Linked DNA regions of Homo sapiens. The protein of the gene in region 1 purifies or fractionates together with the protein of each later gene. This does not show direct contact. Each region holds a gene or a part of one and is shown in the gene's direction. Other genes may lie near its edges.

Region 1 (3,659 bases):
AGGAGGCTTTCAAGCAGTCCAGCGCTGTCCTGAAGTTCCCTTACGCTCACTGCTATCCAGTAGGCTCCACCCTAAGCAGGAATCCGTTTCCTATGTTGGTTCAGGTTCACTCAGGGAAGGTCAGAGTGATGGAGGGTTATCTAGAGGCCATCAAGATTAAAAAAGGGGCTCTTCTTTTAGCCTGTTCATGTGTTCTGTTCTTTAAAAATTGTTGAGGATTCCATACATTCTTGTAATAACTTGCCTTTTAAGTATTTGGTTTTCTAAAATGCAAAAACCAGTTAGGTGACCTATTATCCATTATCCATACAAACACACACGCTGCACACACAATTTTGTTGTTGTTAAATGACTATTACCATGACCATTACCCAGAGTGGTGAACTTAATCATAGGACATCTTAGGGTTAGACAGTTCCACAGGAAACTACATTTATTAGTATGTAATTATCTGTGCATGTGTGCAAGTGTATTTAGATAGATAGATAGATAGATAGATAGATAGATAGATAGATAGATCAGAGATAGAATAAGTGCTAACCATGTCCATGCTTATTGTGATAACTCCATTATCCCATCTCCATGTCCTCTTCCTGGGCGGAGCAGCGTTCTATATCATTTTCCAGACAGAGGACCCAACCAGTCTGGGGCAATTCTATGACTACCCCATGGCACTGTTCACCACCTTTGAGCTTTTTCTCACTGTTATTGATGCACCTGCCAACTACGACGTGGACTTGCCCTTCATGTTCAGCATTGTCAACTTCGCCTTCACCATCATTGCCACACTGCTCATGCTCAACTTGTTCATCGCCATGATGGGCGACACCCACTGGAGGGTGGCCCAGGAGAGGGATGAGCTCTGGAGGGCCCAGGTGAGTTTATTTGTGTTAGTCTTGCTAAGAAGCAGGGGTTGGAGAGAAAAATCAAAGTGGAAAATGTTATGGTGGATCATTCTTAAAAGAGTCACAGAAAAACCCAGTGAGGCTGTCACCTCAGAAGAGGTTTGTGTAAACCTGAGGTACATGTGGATAAATGGAAGGGACAGAAGGAGGATTAAATGGACGATAGTGGCAAGAGGTGGGGTTGTTGCTCACAGGGGAAAAGTAGACCTAGGATTGATCCTTGAGTCCAGTGGGAACTAGAAGTGACCTTGTTCTGGTATATTCCAGTTTTCAATTTGGATCTTATCTTCTATTTGCTTCTGTAAATCCCTGTTTCTCTATGATCTTTTCTTTATATCACCATAGACTGATAAATATTAGAATTAGAAGTGACCCTCAATGGCCCTCAAGTTGACCTCCTACTTAACATAATAATCATTTATTGGTCAGAATGTCATTCAATATCTTCTCTAATGCTGATTAGTACCTTATTATCTTGCAAATTCAGGTAGAGGTTGGGAGGAAGGGAGTTTTCCCATATTTTTAAAGATTTTGTTATTAGACATTTATGTCGCATTGAGCTAAAACCTATCTTCTTAAAATTTCATTCTTTGGCGCCAGTCTTTCCCTCTCATATATCACAGAACACATTCTTCCATATAAGCACCATTCAAATATTTGAATATAGCCATCATTTTTCCCTTAGACTTTTCATTCATTTAATGATGATCATTTAGACCCTGCTATGTGTTGACAAATGCCTAGGAGCTAGGGACATGAGCATAAACACAACAGACACCATATGTGCCCTCATGGAGCTGACGGTTTAGTTGGAAAGACGGGCATGAAGTGAATGACTTCACAAAAAGCTGTAAAATTACAGCAGCAAAAGTGCTATAGAGAATGTAAGGTGCTAAGAGGAGGATACAACAGAGGAATCGGACTGGGAAGTGAAGACATGCTTTCCTGAGGGAGCAACATTTAAGATGAGAACCCAAAGGTGAGCAAGAACTAGGTAGTTAAAAGGAAGGAGGGAAAAGGATGAAGGTCAAGGTTAGTAGCAATTAGGACTCTTGGCTACAGGGACAGAAAACCAAACTCAAACAGACTTGCAGATTTTTAAACAGGGGGAAGAGGATGTGTTAGTCCTCATAAATGGGAAGTTTAGAGAATTAAACTAACTTTAGAGGTATCTGGCCAGAATGCAGATCCACATCTTATACATTACATCCATTCCTCTGTTCGGCTCTCTTTTGACCTCTCTTCTAAGGCAAGCTCTCCCATCGTGTTTGTGAGATCATTTCTAGAAGCTCCAAACTCCAAAAAGAATGAGGATGTGCAATGCAACACGCAGCTCCGAGGGCCCCACTCACGTTGTATTCTGTGAGGCTCCTGGTGCCAGGCAAAACTGCAGGCTTTAAAAGAACATCTTTCCCCCTGCCAATTCCTTCCATGTTCCATCTCATGGGAACACATTCGGGTCATAGGCACATCGTTGAATCTAAGGAAAGACCAAGGACTAGATAGTGGAGGTGTTGGTGATGGTGGTGGAGGGGAGGTTTGGGGGAAAATAGATTAATTAAGCACAACTGTGTGAAGCCCAGTCCACTCAAACCAATGCACTAAAAGTGATGAGGGAGCAATTCCCTAAATGAAAAATGGGTGCTGTTACCCGAGGAAGGACGGGGCTGCATGATGGCTCAGGAGGAACAATAAACATTTCTTTCAAGGCAAAGAAGAACAGCTATCCAGGGTAAGAGCACAGAATGACTGGAAGTCCTGAGCTAGGAGGGAACTTGGTGCAATTAAGAAACTGAAAGAAGTGTGGAGTAATGAGGAAGATAGGGAGTAGAAAAACATGAGGTGAAGAATTTGCTATTTTGAAGATTGCACTCCTTCAATTAGGAAGCCTTCCTGGTTCTGATCTATTCTGATTGCACCCTTTTGTCCATGCTCTAATAGATCATGGTTTCTTTGAAACTAGAATAGTCCCCAGTATGATTAGGGCAATGCGGTACAAAGCGGGACTATGCCTTTCCTTACTTGGACATAATGCTAAGGGTACCTAAAGCTGAGTCAGGTCTTTTAGCAAATATACAAATGGCCCTTATTAAGCTTGTGATCAGCTAGCACTCCCACACCTTTGTTCTATGACTCACTTATCTAAGCTTCCTAAATGTAAATATAGGACCTTAGATTTGGTTTACTTAAATTTCTTGTTAATGATTTTACACCAGCATTCCAATCTAGCGAGATAATTTTATATTGCTTCTGTTGCCCCACATATTACATATCCCTCCCAGTTTTGTGTCACAGGCATATTTGATAAGCTTGTTTCCCATGTTTCATCTAAGTAATTAATGAGGGCTGAGCAAAGGACAGAACGTGTGGTGGACTTGCTACCAGAAATTTCCCTGCCAACTTGCAGTCATTAATCAACCCTTTTCCTTCCTAAGATGTGGATATTTAATTTGCTGAAAATTCCCTGAACAGTAACAGTATCAATTCATCCCCAAGATCGTAGAGATTCTCTTTAATCATTTTATTTAAATCGAGATAATTGGTCTGTGGCTTTTATATGAAAAAGAAGTTGAGATTAGTTTGGAGTGACTCATTCTCCATGAGTGAATAGTAATGTAAGGGCAACTATTTTATTCAAAACACTCACAAAAAATCCTCTCTCATTTCTTGATGAGTGAAGCTGGTTGCATGGTGCCTGGCACAGGCTGTGGGGTGAATAGGTGGCTGTTCTCACCACTGACCTCTAGTGTCCTA
Region 2 (3,659 bases), about 130 Mb from region 1:
ATAGCATTTTATTCTTTACTGTAGTTAGGATTCATGTTTTAAAAGAATGAAAATATCCACATGACAGAAACCTAAAACTAACTGGGGGAATAAAGGGTATAGAGAGTTTAGAAAGGGATGTTTAAATTGTGTCCTCCTTAACATTAACAAATGTGTTCCCTTTAAAACTCTAGGTAATAAAGACATCACATGGGTAATGTTAGAAGCTGGTGCTGAGACAGATGTTGTCAACTCTGTGGGAAGAACAGCAGCTCAGATGGCAGCCTTTGTGGGTGAGATTTTGCTGCAGTTTTGCATTAGATTATACCCAAAATTTCCCTTGTGGAAAAAAAACCCACTTTGCTTCTCATGGTGAAAATATTATCATGTTGCTTTAAAAAAACTTAAGTATTTACAGTCCACTGTAACTTAATGAAACACCTAGTGACTCTGGAGAAAACAAATGGCTATTTCGAATTTCCACTTTTTCAAATACAAAGAGTAGTGGGGCCATTGTAATTGCTCACAAATGCTTATAACATGTATATTTTATGTCTCTGATGGAAGTAGCTAACCCTAATGTTTAAGAATGCTAACCGAGAAGTCAGTAATCCCAAGTTAAATTTTGGCTGTGCCACGTGATAGCAAAGTACTTAATAATTCTGACCTTCAGTTTCCTCATGGTAAAATGTTACAGGGTTATTGTGAGGATTAAAAGAGGTGATAGACTTGAACTTTCCATGTAACACTAAATAAATGGTATTAGTTACTGTTGTTAATAATTATTACAACAATGACATAACTCTTAGGAAAGAGTACTTGATAATAATATACAACTACTTCGTTATCATTCTCATCAACCACAGACGTTTATTTTGTGTGCCCAATAATTCTTGGCATGTTAATCCTATTGCTTGACATAATGTAAGGAAAGAGTGGGAGTGAATTCTTGTTCTTTGGTATTTTGACACCATTGAATTGGTGGTGAAGAGAGTCCACTGAGAGAAAAGCAAAGAGCAACGTCTGATTTATTGGGAGTGCAGTAAGTGGCCGTATAGGGACTAATAATTCATTAAACAAATAATGTTCACAACCTATAAAGCAAGCATCACTGTAGGTGTCTTGGTTATAGTGACAAGACAGGCTGTTCATACTTTCTTGGCACTTAAAGGGTAATAGCAATGACAAATGGTGCGAAAACACATACTCCAAGGTAGAACTTCAGAGCTCCATAAAAATACATAGAAGAGGAGGATCTGTCCAATTCAAGGGGGTTTTGAGAGAAGTCAGGTTCAGATACAGTGTAAATTAGGTGTGGAGGATAGTAACTGAATATTATGTTAAATTTTATTAGAACATTTTCTTGAAACTACTAATAGAAGCTGCCATTGATTAAGCCAGACACTCAGTTGCTTTATGACAGCTTTTTCTGTTAGAAGAAGTATCCTTATTTTCATTTCAAAAGGACTTGAGAAAGGTATGGCCTTGTGTAAGCTTCGGAGAAATATTTTAACTCCCGTGTGTACAGGCCCCAAGTTGCCCCATCTCAGTTCTGAGCTAATTTTGAGGGTGTCACTGCAGGGGGAAAGAACACTAAAGTAGGAATCTGGAGACTTGAACTTTAGTTCATGTGTGCTGATAATTAGTTATAGGATCACGGGCAAATTCCTTTACCTCCATAGGCCTCAGTTTTCTGATCTGTATGCAAAGAAGCAGGGGAATTAGGTGATCTCTGAACTTCTATTTAACTGTACAAGTTTTCATTATATCCACAATGTAACAAAATATTGCTCAGATACAGGTAAAAAAATTTCCCAAGATCACAGGTCTGGAAATGGAGGAGTCTCTTCTTTCAGGCATTAACACAATGCTCCTTTCTTTTTCTTAACACTACAATACTAACAAAATTTTTACTACAGTAAAAATTGTTTGCAATCCTATCCTAAAATAAGAGTAATGTTTTCATTCCATTTTAATATATTTAACTGATTTCACAGACAGAAAATTACATTGCACCCTTCCAGTTGTTACTGTATTTTCCAAATAATTAGCCTTTAAAAAAGCTCATTCTCCCCTTTTTGTTTCCTTCAAGTGGATCAGTATGTATACATGCGTACATACATACATAAGATTTTTGTCATTTTTTAAAAATGCCACCCATCACACAGCAGATATTCCTTGTAGCTTGTTTTCTTCACTTACTAATACATCATGGAAGTTCCTCCCATCTCAGTAGGTGTAATTCATTTCCTTCAACAGCTATATGATACTCCATGATATAGATGTTCCACAGTTCAGTTAGCTCTCCCTTATTGACAGATTTTACAGTTTTTTAACCACTTTTCTACAAATAATGTAATAATCATCCTTGATTTTCTATGTTTTACAAGTTAGTACTTGAATATTTTTTACATGTTAGAACTTTAATATCTCTAAAGTATTTCTTAGAAGTAAAATTGCTGAGACAAAGGATATAGAGTTTTTATTTTTATTTATTTATTTATTTATTTATTTATTTATTTATTCATTTATTTTTGAGATGGAGTCTCGCCCTGTCGCCCAGGCTGGAGTGCAGTGGCCCAACCTCAGCTCATTGCAACCTCCGCCTCCCGGGTTCAAGTGATTCTCCTGCCTCAGCCTCCCAACTAGCTGGGATTATAGGTGTGCGCCACCACGCCTAGCTAATTTTTTTTGTATTTTTAGTAGAGATGGGGTTTCACCATGTTGGTCAGGCTGGTCTTGAACTCCTGACCTTGTGATCTGCCCGCCTCGGCCTCCCAAAGTGCTGGGATTACAGCCACCACGACCAGCCTAGAGTTTTAATTTTAATGTAAGTCTAGATTCCTTTCCAAAAGGGCATAGTAATTCACAGTAATATCCTCATCAGAGCTGAGTATTACCATTCTTTGATTTTTGCCACTCTGATAGTTAAAAAGATGGTACATTGTGAACTTACTTTCCCCTCATTATTTATGAAATTAAGCACTTCTGTTGTTGGTAATTTGTATTTTCACTTTTGTGGATTACCCACTTATACTCTTTATTCATTTTTTTGTGGGGGGATGCCCTTTGTTATTGCTTTGAGGAGCTTTATGCATACAAATCCATTATCTAACAAATGTGTTTCAAATATTTTATGCCAGTCCTCCTCTTCCTCCTCCTCCTCCTTCTTCTTCTTCTTTTTATTCCTCTTCTTCCTCCTCCTCTTCCTCTTCTTCTTCTTCCTTCTTTCTTCTTCTTCTTTTTTAACTTTATGGAGACCTTTACCATAGGAAATTTATTTATTTATTTATTTATTTATTTTTTTGAGATGGAGTCTCACTCTGTCACCCAGGCTGGAGTGCAGTGGCATAATCTCGGCTCACTGCAACCTCCACCTCCTGGGTTCAAACGATTCTCCTGCCTCAGCCTCCCATGTAGCTGGGACTACAGGTATGTGCCACCACACCCAGCTAATTGTTGTATTTTTAGTAGAGATGGGGCTTAGCCATGTTGGCCAGGCTGGTCTCGAACTCTTGACCTTAGGTGATCGTCCCACCTCCCAAAGTCCTTAGGATTACAGGCATGAACCACTGTGCCCGGCAGGAAATTTATTTTTAAGTAGTCATATTTTTTCTTTTATAGCTTCCGTGTTTCTTGTTTTGCTAAAAGTGGGCCTCTTGACCAGGAGTTACATAAGT

Evidence for each region. Proteins that work in one complex are often made in the same cells at the same time.
Region 2: the proteins of TRPV5 (region 1) and ANKMY2 purify together in Homo sapiens (affinity purification with mass spectrometry; one large-scale study listed by BioGRID and IntAct). This does not show direct contact.

Annotation. Positions count from the first base shown.
Region 1 is NC_000007.14:142,909,698-142,913,356, reverse strand, and holds part of TRPV5 (transient receptor potential cation channel subfamily V member 5), read left to right. Parts: intron 1-606; coding exon 607-875; intron 876-3,659. UniProt on the Homo sapiens protein: Constitutively active calcium selective cation channel thought to be involved in Ca(2+) reabsorption in kidney and intestine. Required for normal Ca(2+) reabsorption in the kidney distal convoluted tubules.
Region 2 is NC_000007.14:16,621,596-16,625,254, reverse strand, and holds part of ANKMY2 (ankyrin repeat and MYND domain-containing protein 2), read left to right. Parts: intron 1-173; coding exon 174-272; intron 273-3,659. UniProt on the Homo sapiens protein: May be involved in the trafficking of signaling proteins to the cilia.